3 linked regions of the Homo sapiens genome follow. The protein of the gene in region 2 purifies or fractionates together with the protein of the main gene of each other region. This does not show direct contact. Each region holds a gene or a part of one and is shown on either strand. Other genes may lie near its edges. The genes, in order: CASP2, NOD1 and CASP9.

Region 1 (3,651 bases), about 110 Mb from region 2:
TCTCCCCATAACCACACTGTGTTTACAACTTCACTTGTCAGGCTCTTCAACTGCAGCTGAAACATTCCTGGCAATAGGTCCAACCAAGGCTGGCTCTACAGGCAAAGGGCTTCACAGAAAAGGAGCTGGCCTGGAGTCCCACACTCAAAGGCAGAGATGATGGGCACAGGAAACAAGTCTGGGAGATTCCCACATCCCTGAGGGGGCAGAACAGAAACCGTGCATCCTGAAGATCAAAGGCTCTATCACACCTCCTGTGGTCCAGTGGCTTCCACTTGGCGTGGATGATGGGGAGGTGACATCATGTGGGAGGGTGTCCTGGGAACAGGTAGAGGTGGCGGCACAGAGTGCTGCAGTATTCAGACATCTCCTTGCACCGGTGGAATTCTGTGCCAGGAGCATAACCTTCCCGATCCTTGATAAGTGCGTTCACCTGGAGGGGCAGAACCAATAGGCCCAAGTCTGAGAATCTCGGGCTTCAGGAGAGCAGCAAACGGGAAGGGGAGACGGACTATGAAAGAGCATTCAAGAGAGGAGGAAAGTAGAGCACTGTGGAGACACACAGGGGTCACGGAGCCCGCTGGCTCACCTTAACCAGCATGTCGGCCACGTGCATATCACAAGCCCGCTCAGAAAACACTTGAGCAAGAGCCTCGATGTACCAGGAACCTCGTTTGGTGTTCCGCATGGCGGCAGTCCCTGCAACCAAAAGGGCATTAATCACAGTGTGAATGCCATCACACAGCTGCACTTCCCAAACTAGACTCGGCCATGACACCTGCACCCTCCCTAGTCAGAGAACCCAGCATGAAGAATCTAAGTCTAGGAGGGTACTCTTTTGGATTATTGGCATACTTTGGAGATACCGTAGGTCTGTTTCCAGACCAGCTTAAGAAAGTGAATATGGCAATAAAGCAAGTCATACAAATTTTCAGGTCTCCCAGTGTATACGGAAGTTATGGTTACTATCCTACAGTCTATTAAGTGTGCAACAACATTATGTCTAAAACATGCATATGCTGTAATTAAAACATACTTTATTGCTGAAAAATGCTAACAGAGGCATGCCAATAGAAAAATGGTGCTGACAGATGCTCAAAGGATTGCCACAAACCTTCAATTTGTAAAAAGCAGCTGAGCATCCCAAATCCAAAAAATCTGAAATGCTTCAAAATCTGAAACTTTCCAAGTGCCAATATGATGCTCAAAGAAGGTGCTCATGGGAGTGTTTTAAATTTAGAATATTTGGATACGGGATACTCAACTAGTAAGTATAACGCAAATATTCCAAAATCCAAAAAAACAAAAAAATCCAAAATCTGAAACACTTCTGGTTCCAACACTTCAGATAAGGGATACTCAACCTGTACCTGCAAAGCACAATAAAGCAAAGTGCAACAAAATGAGGTATGACTCAACTCTTTTGGAACTCAAAGTACCTTTGAGGCAGGCATAGCCGCATATCATGTCTGAGCGCGTGGGCAGTCTCATCTTCGGCAACTTTTCTTTACCGGCATCACTCTCCTCGCACCCAGGGGATCCTGCGTGGTTCTTTCCATCTTGTTGGTCAACCCCACGATCAGTCTCATCTGTAACAAAGGCAGACAGAATGGACAATGATGTTACTTCTTCCTATCTCTCTTGGGCCTGTCACAGGCAAGCCCACGTTCCCTACAACCTTGAAGGGGAAGAGCCATTTCCAGCTGTTGCCTCCAACCTATGGCTGATAAACTAAAAAAAAAAAAAAAAAATTATTACTCTCTCAGCATGCATCTGTTACTCAGGGGATGCCTCATACACACCGGGCACCACGCTCAAGCACATGCACATCTATGCGGTTGGAGCAGTTCCCATTCTGTGTAAGACAGGGAAAATGCCAAATCAAATACTCCTTGTAAATGGAACTGAAAATCATCTAAGTCCACAACTCACTTGTTCAATTAACAATATGCCTGGGAGTCACAGTGCTTTTTATTGCAATACATAATAAAATATTGATATATTTAATTACATAAACAAGAAAAAACAAGGTAATAAATAACAAATACGGTTACCATATGTATGCTATATAAAAATCACAACCTCGAACTATGTATCAAAAAATAATAAAACTAAGTATGATCAGTTGTTTCCAAGGTGGTTTTGATATCTTCGAAGCACTATGTTTATTAATTTCATAAGATAAATTATAGCAAGCATCCAAGATTTAAGAAAAAAAATTTTTAATTTATTTTTTAAAATAACTTTTTAAATCTTTTTTTTTCTTTTTTTAATAGAGATGGGGTCTTGCTACGTTGACCAGGCTTGTCTTGAACTCCTGGCTTCAAGTGATCCTTCTGCCTCGGCCTCCCAAAGTGTTGGGATTATAGGCATGAGTCACTGCACCTGGCCTTATGAAAATTTTAAGAGGAAAAACTTAAAGTGGGGAGAACTTGACTGTTTTCTCCCAGAAAATTTAAAAAGATCATCCTTATTCAATTTTAGCAGTAATTTCTCAACATACCCTGAGCAGATCCTTGCTCTTGATACAAGCCTTATGTATCCCAAGACAGACTCTTATTTTTGATGATGTTGTTTTATTTTGGGTGTGGGCAGGGGTGCTGTCAGTAGGCAAGACAGATGGGGAGGACTCTCAGGTCAACACATCAAAAGTAAGAGTATGCTCTTTTACAGTACTTCCTGATCCATGCAATGTCGAGGGAGCCTAGGAAAGAAGGGAAGCTTCAAGAATTGGGGGAAAAGGACCAAAGCACAGGTTTAATAAAAATGTGTCAAGCAACTGCCATGTGTTGGGCACTGTCTTACTTTAAGGCCTAGGGATAGAGTGAAGAGAAAATTCCTGCCGTCATGGAGCTTACACTCCAGTTTAGAAGCTGACTGGGGCAGGGGGGTGGAGCTTTTTCTAGACATTAATTATATTAACCAAATACAGCAGGAAGACAGGTGAACTCAAATTTTCAATGGAACAATTGGCTACTGGTCATTCCTTGAAGGATTTAATTTCAGAAAAGTTAGAGAGACAGAGCAAAAGATCCAGATTACTCCAGAAAAGAGCAATTACTCCTTATCCAGATCCAATAGTGTATTAAATCCCTGGATATAGGATGAGAAAATCACAATTTAACGTCGTTTTGTTAGTAAAGACGCCTAAAGGAAACAGGCCAAGCTAAAGAGAAAGGAGAATTCCTCTCTCACCTTTATATCACAGATCCATCAATCAATAAATGTCACTGGTTCTTTTGTCACAATATCCTCATATTTGTTTTTTACATAATACCTACAGTTTTTCAGGCAGATTAATTTTCATCCATTCATTGAACATTTATAAGTGCTACCATGCATCAGGCAGTGCCCTGGGCCTGGGGATAGAGCAGGGAATGAAAAGTAAAGTTGCTGACCCATAACCTCTTTCCTTAGTGCAGCCCCCTCCATGGCAACCTTGCTGGAAAAACAATTCATCACATTATTTCTTACTTAAGCTCCCAACTGTTCCTTACTTTTACCTGCTGATGTCCAAAACCTCAGTTATGACTAAAGGTTTGTAAGGAGGTGAACCCACTTCATTGTGACCAGCCACATCTCACATACTCACACAGATGCTATTTTAAAATCAGATCCGAGCATCTGTTTGGGAGGAGGGGAGACACAACA
Region 2 (3,651 bases):
CAGAAGATCCTTCAGCCTCTTCTTGTCCAGGAATACTTGCGTGTGTAAAATGATCTTGGAAGTGGAAAGGCCTGGAATTGGCCACTTTGTCGTTTGTCTAGGCAGGAAAACTCATGCATTTCAGAGAGAGAGTAAAAAAAAGGTTTTTTTGTAGTTCAAAAAAAAGCTCATAGATCTTTTAACACTATCCACATCATTAATATGTTTCACAAGCCACATCTGTTAACATTCAGGTCCAGTGGTTCTCAATTTTTTTTCCACCAAGTGGCACATGAGTCTCCTGCTCTTTGACATGCTTCTATGTTTTCTTTTTTTAACCTATCAAATGCCAGACCCCACACAATAGCTTTCTTTTTAGAATCCAAATGATAGAGCAGGAAAGAGTAAAATTTAAAATTATCAGCAACAGAAGGGCAAGAGATCCTCACCAAAAAAATTTAAAGGTATGAAAATATTAGTTATTGTTCCAATAAAAGTTATTAAATACTAATCCAGCCTTTTCTTTTTTTTTTTTTTTTGACAGAGTCCCACTGTGTGGCTCAGGCTGGAGTGCAGTGGCACAATCTCGGCTCACTGCAACATCTGCCTCCTGAGCTCAAGCAATTCTCCTGCATCAGCCACCCGAGTAGCTAGAACTACAGGCGGGTGCCACCATGCCCAGCTAATTTTTGTATTTTTAGTAGAGACAGGGTTTCACCACGTTGGCCAAGCTGGTCTTGAACTCCTGACCTCAAGTGATCTGCCCACCTCGGCCTCCCAAAGTGCTTGGATTACAGGTGTGAGCCACCACACCCGGCTATTTTCCATGGCAGTCAATTCTATGACCCACTTTAGGATCCTTAGCTTTAGAAAATCGGTTCATTTAAAGCATACCAGCTGACAATATTAAATTTAAATTAGCAGTTAATAATACCTTTTTAAGTTTCTGGCATCATTCTTTGAAGTTAGAATATTTTAAAACAACATTGTTTAAATCTTCAATTTCCAATTTATTTCTGGAATCTGCAAAATCAAAGAAAGACTTAAAAAAATTATTGTGGCACATGGTGAATGAATGAATAAAATTGGCAAGAGAATAATTTTAAAATCTAGTACTCCCAGGTATCAGACTACTCTCTGTACCTTCTTCTTTTAGGACAGTGTTTTCTAAATGTTCAACGTCCCCACCATAGTCACTTTTTTGTTGTTCTTGCCATAATTGAGTCACACCTGTCCTTTATTTGCTTAACCTTTTGCTTTCAATTGAGTTTTGAAAACTCTAATAATTTTAAAGGAATGTAATGTCACCATTAGAAACAGAAAAAAAATATCCTTTGCAATACATAGAAAGTAACACAAAAATTAATTCACCAGAAATACCACAATGTTACTGTATTCCAGCTAGTCCTGCTGCCTGGAAAGGCTCCAGGGTTGGGGCCTGTTTTCTCTCGGAAGCATTTGAGAGATGTTAAAGACACAGTAGCACAGAATTGAGACTTTCTCTTTAAGATCATCACAAGGCTGAGAGAAAACTGGAAAGAAGTCACTTCTCACTTTGTGATTCAGCATTTTGCAATGCCATGCTCCATTCTTTAGAAAGCTGGGAAGGGGTGTTGCACAGCTTCCTTCATCCCTCCTTTCCCGACCTTTGCCCGCCTACCACGAGGGGCCCGTTTTACTCACTGCTTCTGTCTCTTCCAAGCCTGCGATTCCCATAAAAACAGCAACTTGTCTTCCCAGATGTTTTCTGTAATCGCCGCCACAATCTCCACCTCTTGCCATCAAAGGCAGAAACCGAAGGAAAGTCTCCTGACTTACAATCACCTAAATAAAGCAATATATTATATGACAGCCATCTGGCAAGGAGGCTGCTTTATAATGTCCAGAGCCCTGGCTGAAGATTTAATCAGGTGTGCAGAGTTAGCTCAATTCAGCAAGAACTTAACAAGGTATGGATGTTGGAAGGGAAAGCAGAGAAACTGAACTCTGCCTTGGTAAACAGAATCTAAGGGTAGACCAAAACCATACCATGGGAGACTGGAGATCAATTCGAAGTTCATGGGCACTTATTACCAGAAACACCAGACAGCCAGAGATCTGCTGGCCCTGGGGGGCAATCCTTTCCTTTCTTTGCTTGGTAAAGGGTGGGTCCAGTTGATGAAGACGGTCTGGTCCTCTCTTCCAGGCAAAGAGAGGACGGAGATTGGGCTGGGGCCAGGTATCTGGGAGCTGGGTCTGCTCTCCTGGGTGGAGCTTTCCCAGGCCAGTGGTGCAGACCAATGGGGACTGAAGTTGGAGATCCTGGTAAGACAGCTCCAGGGATACCCAAAGGAAAAAACCAAGCTAATGGAGGCAGCCAGAAAACAGGACACACCGCAGAACAAAAGATGGATCACCAAGTGGAAAAATGAAGCAGAGGAGATCGGAGGAGGGTGAGTCCACCACCAAAAGCCATCTCCTGAGGCAAAGGCAGGTGGGGGTAGAGCCTGTGGGCAGTGAGGGAGCCCCGAAGGGAGCTGGGGGTTGCACAGGCATTTCCTCTCAACCGCTCTTCTTTCTAGCTTTCTGCCCTCAGAGAGGGTTAGTTTCCAGGGTAAGGGAATCCCAGGGGCAATTCACCACTCCGGGCTCCTCACAGAAACCAGTGCCCAAGTCCCCTCCTGCAATGTGATCTTCCAAACTAAAGAAAAGGTCTGCAGAGCCTCCAGGAGAAGATTCAGGGAAGCTGCTCTGGTGAAAAGGAAGCAGGGATTGCAGGATGGCGGATCTTCAAAGGGAAAAAGGAGACCATAGAGCAGCTCTGTTGAATTGAAATATGACACAGCTTTCCTAGTAATTTAAAACTTTCTAATAGCCACACTAATAAAAGTAAAAATGGACAGGTGAAATTAATTTCAATGATATATTTTAATTCTAATACACTCAAAATATTTCAGTATGTCATCCATACAAAATTTATTTATTATTATTTTTTGAGATGAAGTCTCACTCACTCTGTCGCCCAGGCTGGAGTGCGGTGGCGCAATCTCGGCTCACTGCAGCCTCCGCCTCCCAGGTTCAAGCAATTCTCCTGCCTCCGCCTCCTAAGTAGCTGGGATTACAGGTGCACACCCCCATGCCTGGCTACTTTTTGTATTTTTAGTAGAGACAGGGTTTCATCATATTGCCCAGGCTGGTCTTGAACTCCTGGCCTCAAGTGATCCTCCCACCTCAGCCTCCCAAAGTGCTGGGATTACAGGTGTGAGCCACTGCACCCAGCCCATCAACAAAAAATTTATTAATGAGATAGTTTACATTCTTTTTCTTCATACTATGGCTTGGAAACCTGGCATGTGTTTTAATCGCACATCTCAGTTTGGATCAACCACATTTCCAGTGCTCAAGAGCCACATGCGGCCAGGGGCTACTCAAGTGGACAGTGCCACTCCAGGGCAATCACTAAAAGCTAGGGTGTTGAGACATCAGAGTTCCTGCCTGCTGCCCTTCCATTTGAAATACTGATGCCAGGAATGATCTTTGTTGTTGTTGTTGTTGTTGTTGAGACGGAGTCTCGCTCTGTCACCCAGGCGGGAGTGCAGTGGCACAATCTTGGCCCACTGCAAGCTCCGCCTCCCGGGTTCACGCCATTCTCCTGCCTCAGCCTCCCAAGTAGCTGGGACTACAGGCACCTGC
Region 3 (3,651 bases), on a different chromosome or scaffold from region 2:
TCCATCAACAAGGATGGGTCTAATGATACCTGCCTTGCAAGGTTGCTATAAACGAAGAAGGTAAGGGTAAATACTTTGCAGATGTCTGTTTGTATGGGGCAGATACAACTGAGGCCTGTCTCCTGCCCCCAGACATGAGGTAGTCCAGGCTACCCACCCAGACTGAAAGGCAAATCCAAAACAATAGATGGCTCTGGAAACATTGATCAAAACCTGGGGCCTGCTATCTCAAAGGCAGGAAAAAAAACAAAAACAAAAACAAAAAACCTGGGACATCCAAAACAGACCTCAACACATGCTTTTCAGAGGAGGGGCTGCCAAGATTCAACCTCCTGAAAACCTCCCAGAATTTTGCCATCCCTATGAACATTCAGAAAGACAATGCTAAAATTAAATTCTGAATCTCAGCCCACCCAGCTGTACTCATAGTGAGTCCCAAATGACTACGTGTCATGCCCACCCACCAATCACTCTCTTGCTACTTACCGACATCACCAAATCCTCCAGAACCAATGTCCACTGGTCTGGGTGTTTCCGGTCTGAGAACCTCTGGTTTGCGAATCTCTGGTCTGAGCACCACTGGGGTAAGGTTTTCTAGGGTTGGCTTCGACAACTTTGCTGCTTGCCTGTTAGTTCGCAGAAACGAAGCCAGCATGTCCTGGCCTGTGTCCTCTAAGCAGGAGATGAACAAAGGAAGAGCCTGACTCCCTCGAGTCTCCAGATCTATGATCAGCTGCCTGGCCTGATCCCGCCGAGATCCAGAGCCTGCCCGCTGTTTGGAAAGAAAGGCAGGATACTAATTATCCACGTACTTTTATATGGCTCTCACCTTGTCTCCCCATTTCCCAGCTACTGTAAGTCTAAACAATCAGGCACGTGGGCAGCAATGGAGCTGCAGGTGCACTGTGTGCCATTTACCAGCCTTTGCTGATCTGTTCATTATTTTGCAGGGCAAAAGATGCCCAGCACTATGCTAAGTGCTGAAAATGCTGCCATGGACAGTCTCAGTCCTTAAGGAGCAAATTTCTAATGGGGAATGCAATCAGACAAATCAGCAATGACACAACAAGAGACAAGTGCCCAGAGGGAAGCACATGGGGCTGAGGATATCATGAAGTGAATAGCGAATTCAGAGTCTTATGAGGTGGGAGGTAGATAGTGGCAAGGGACAAGGCCTTTGTGTGGCCAGGCCAAGAAATTCATCCTGAGACCTGTCAGGTGCCACCAAAGAGTTTTTTGGTTTTGTTTTTGTTTTTTTTTTTTTTTCTTGAGACGGAGTCTCACTCTGTCACCCAGGCTAGAGTGTACTGGTGCAATCTCAGCTCACTGCAACCTCCAACTCCAAGGTTCAAGCGATTATCCTGCCTCAGCCTCCGGAGTAGTTGGGGTTACAGGCACACACCACCATACCTGACTAATTTTTTTTTTATTTTTAGTAGAAACAGGGTTTCACCATGTTGCCCAGGCTGGTCTTGAACTGACCTCAAGTGATCCTCCAGCCTTGGCCTCCCAAAGTGCTGGGATTATAGGCATGAGCCACCGTGGCCAGCCATCGGTTGTTTTTTTGTTTGTTTTTTGAGGAGTCTTGCTCTGTCACCCAGGCTGGAATGCAGTGGCACCATCTCAGCTCACTGCAACCTCCACCTTTTGGGTACAAATGATTCTCCCACATCAGCCTCCCAGGTAGCTGGGACTACAGGCACCCACCACCATGCCTGGCTAATGTTTGTATTTTTTGGTTAAGACAGGGTTTCACCATGTTGGCCAGGCTGGTCTCAAAACTCCTGACCTCAAGCGATCCACCAACCTCAGCCTCTCAAAGTGCTAGGATTACAGGCGTGAGCTACCATGCCCGGCCACCAAAGAGTTTTAAGAATGGAGTGACAGAGACAGATATGGCCTTTCAAAAAGTCATCCAGGGGTCAGGGTGAAAAATGGAAAGGAGTGAGCCATAGCCAGATCAGGAGGCAGCAAAGATGGTGCAGCTAGAATAGAGAGAAGTGAAAGGACAAAGCAGAGATACAAAGAGAGAGGGTCCATAGGACATGGGCACTGACTGGGGGGACTGTGAAGACAGAGCAAGGGTCAAGGTTGACAGGCAGGCCAGGCACAGTGGCTCATGCTTGCAATTCCAGCACTTTGGGAGGCTGAAGTGGGAGGATAGCTTGAGCCCAGTTCGAGACCAGCCTGGACAACACAGTGAGACCCTGTCTCTACAAAAAATAACAAAAAAAAAGCCAGGTATGGTGTCACGCACCTGTAGTCCCAGCTACTCAGGAGGCTGAGGCTCCCAAGAGGATGGCTCGAGCCCAGGAGATAAGGCTGCAGTGAGCTGTGATAGCACCACTGCACTTCAGCCTGGGTGACAGAGCAAGACCCTGTCTCAAAAAAAAAAATTGAGAGGTGTCAGGATGGTGGGGTCAGTCACTAAGAAGGAAGAGTCTGGTTATCTGCCACCTGTCCTCAGATACCCAGCACTGGACAGGTTCTCAGGATCCACAGGGATAAGATGGCACCGTGTCCTCAACTATCCTACAGCAGCACTGTCTATGAGAACCTTCCGTGATGATGGAAATATTCTTGGTCTGTATTGTCCTATTTAGTAACCATATATCACATGACCATTAAGCACTTGGGTAGTACAACTGAGGAACTGAATTTTTGTGGGCGAAAGATTACCCAGGTGCCGAGGCAAGAGACTGAAGCCACAAACTGTTTCAGTATAATAAAGAAAATAGTTAGAATAAGAATAGTCATAATACAAATTAGGTATAGAGATGATCATGGACAATTATCAATCATTATTATAAACATTATTAATCATTAGCTTTTAATATTACTCTTTGTTGCATTGCTAATATAACTTAGGAATAACCGGCGGGTATAGGGTCAGGTGCTGAAGGGACATTGTGAGAAGTGACCTAGAAGGCAAGAGGTGAGCCCTCTGTCAGGCCCGCATAAGGGCCGCTTGAGGGCTCCTTGGTCAAGCGGTAATGCCAGTGTCTGGGGAGACACCCATTACTTAGCAGACCGCGAAGGGGAGTCTCCTGCCAGGCGCGGTGGCTCACGCCTGTAATCCCAGCACTTTGGGAGGCCAAGGCAGGCAGATCACAAGGTTAGGAGTTCAAGACCAGCCTGACCAACACGGTGAAACCCGTCTCTACTAAAAATACAAAAAAATTAGCTGGGCGTGGTAGTGCGCACCTGTAATTCCAGCTACTCAGGAGGCTGAGGCAGAACAGCTTGAACCCTGGCTGGGCGCGGTGGCTCAAGCCTGTAATCCCAGCACTTTGGGAGGCCAAGGTGGGCAGATCACGAGGTCAGGAGATCGAGACCATCCTGGCTAACACGGTGAAACCCCATCTCTACTAAAAATACAAAAAATTAGCCGGGCGTGGTGGCGGGTGCCTGTAGACCCAGCTACTCGGGAGGCTGAGGGAGGAGAATGGCATGAACCCGGGAGGCGGAGCTTGCAGTGAGCCGAGATTGCGGCACTGCACTCCAGCCTGGGCGACAGAGCGAGACTCCGTCTCAAAAAAAAAAAAAAAAAAAAGGAAAATAGCTTGAACCCGGAAGGTGGAGGTTGCAGTGAGCTGAGATCGTACCATTGCACTCCAGCCTGGGCGAAAAAGTGGGACACCACCTCAAAAA

The links.
Region 1: the proteins of NOD1 (region 2) and CASP2 purify together in Homo sapiens (affinity purification with western blotting, with the first as the bait; one study listed by BioGRID). This does not show direct contact.
Region 3: the proteins of NOD1 (region 2) and CASP9 purify together in Homo sapiens (affinity purification with western blotting; one study listed by BioGRID and IntAct). This does not show direct contact.

Annotation. Positions count from the first base shown.
Region 1 is NC_000007.14:143,301,722-143,305,372, reverse strand, and holds part of CASP2 (caspase-2 isoform 1 preproprotein), read right to left. Parts: intron 1,590-3,651; coding exon 1,440-1,589; intron 700-1,439; coding exon 590-699; intron 434-589; coding exon 302-433; 3' UTR 1-301. UniProt on the Homo sapiens protein: Is a regulator of the cascade of caspases responsible for apoptosis execution. Might function by either activating some proteins required for cell death or inactivating proteins necessary for cell survival.
Region 2 is NC_000007.14:30,458,239-30,461,889, forward strand, and holds part of NOD1 (nucleotide-binding oligomerization domain-containing protein 1), read right to left. Parts: intron 1,804-3,651; 5' UTR 1,663-1,803; intron 1,003-1,662; 5' UTR 914-1,002; intron 1-913. UniProt on the Homo sapiens protein: Pattern recognition receptor (PRR) that detects bacterial peptidoglycan fragments and other danger signals and thus participates in both innate and adaptive immune responses.
Region 3 is NC_000001.11:15,517,624-15,521,274, forward strand, and holds part of CASP9 (caspase-9 isoform alpha precursor), read right to left. Parts: intron 773-3,651; coding exon 487-772; intron 1-486. UniProt on the Homo sapiens protein: Involved in the activation cascade of caspases responsible for apoptosis execution. Binding of caspase-9 to Apaf-1 leads to activation of the protease which then cleaves and activates effector caspases caspase-3 (CASP3) or caspase-7 (CASP7).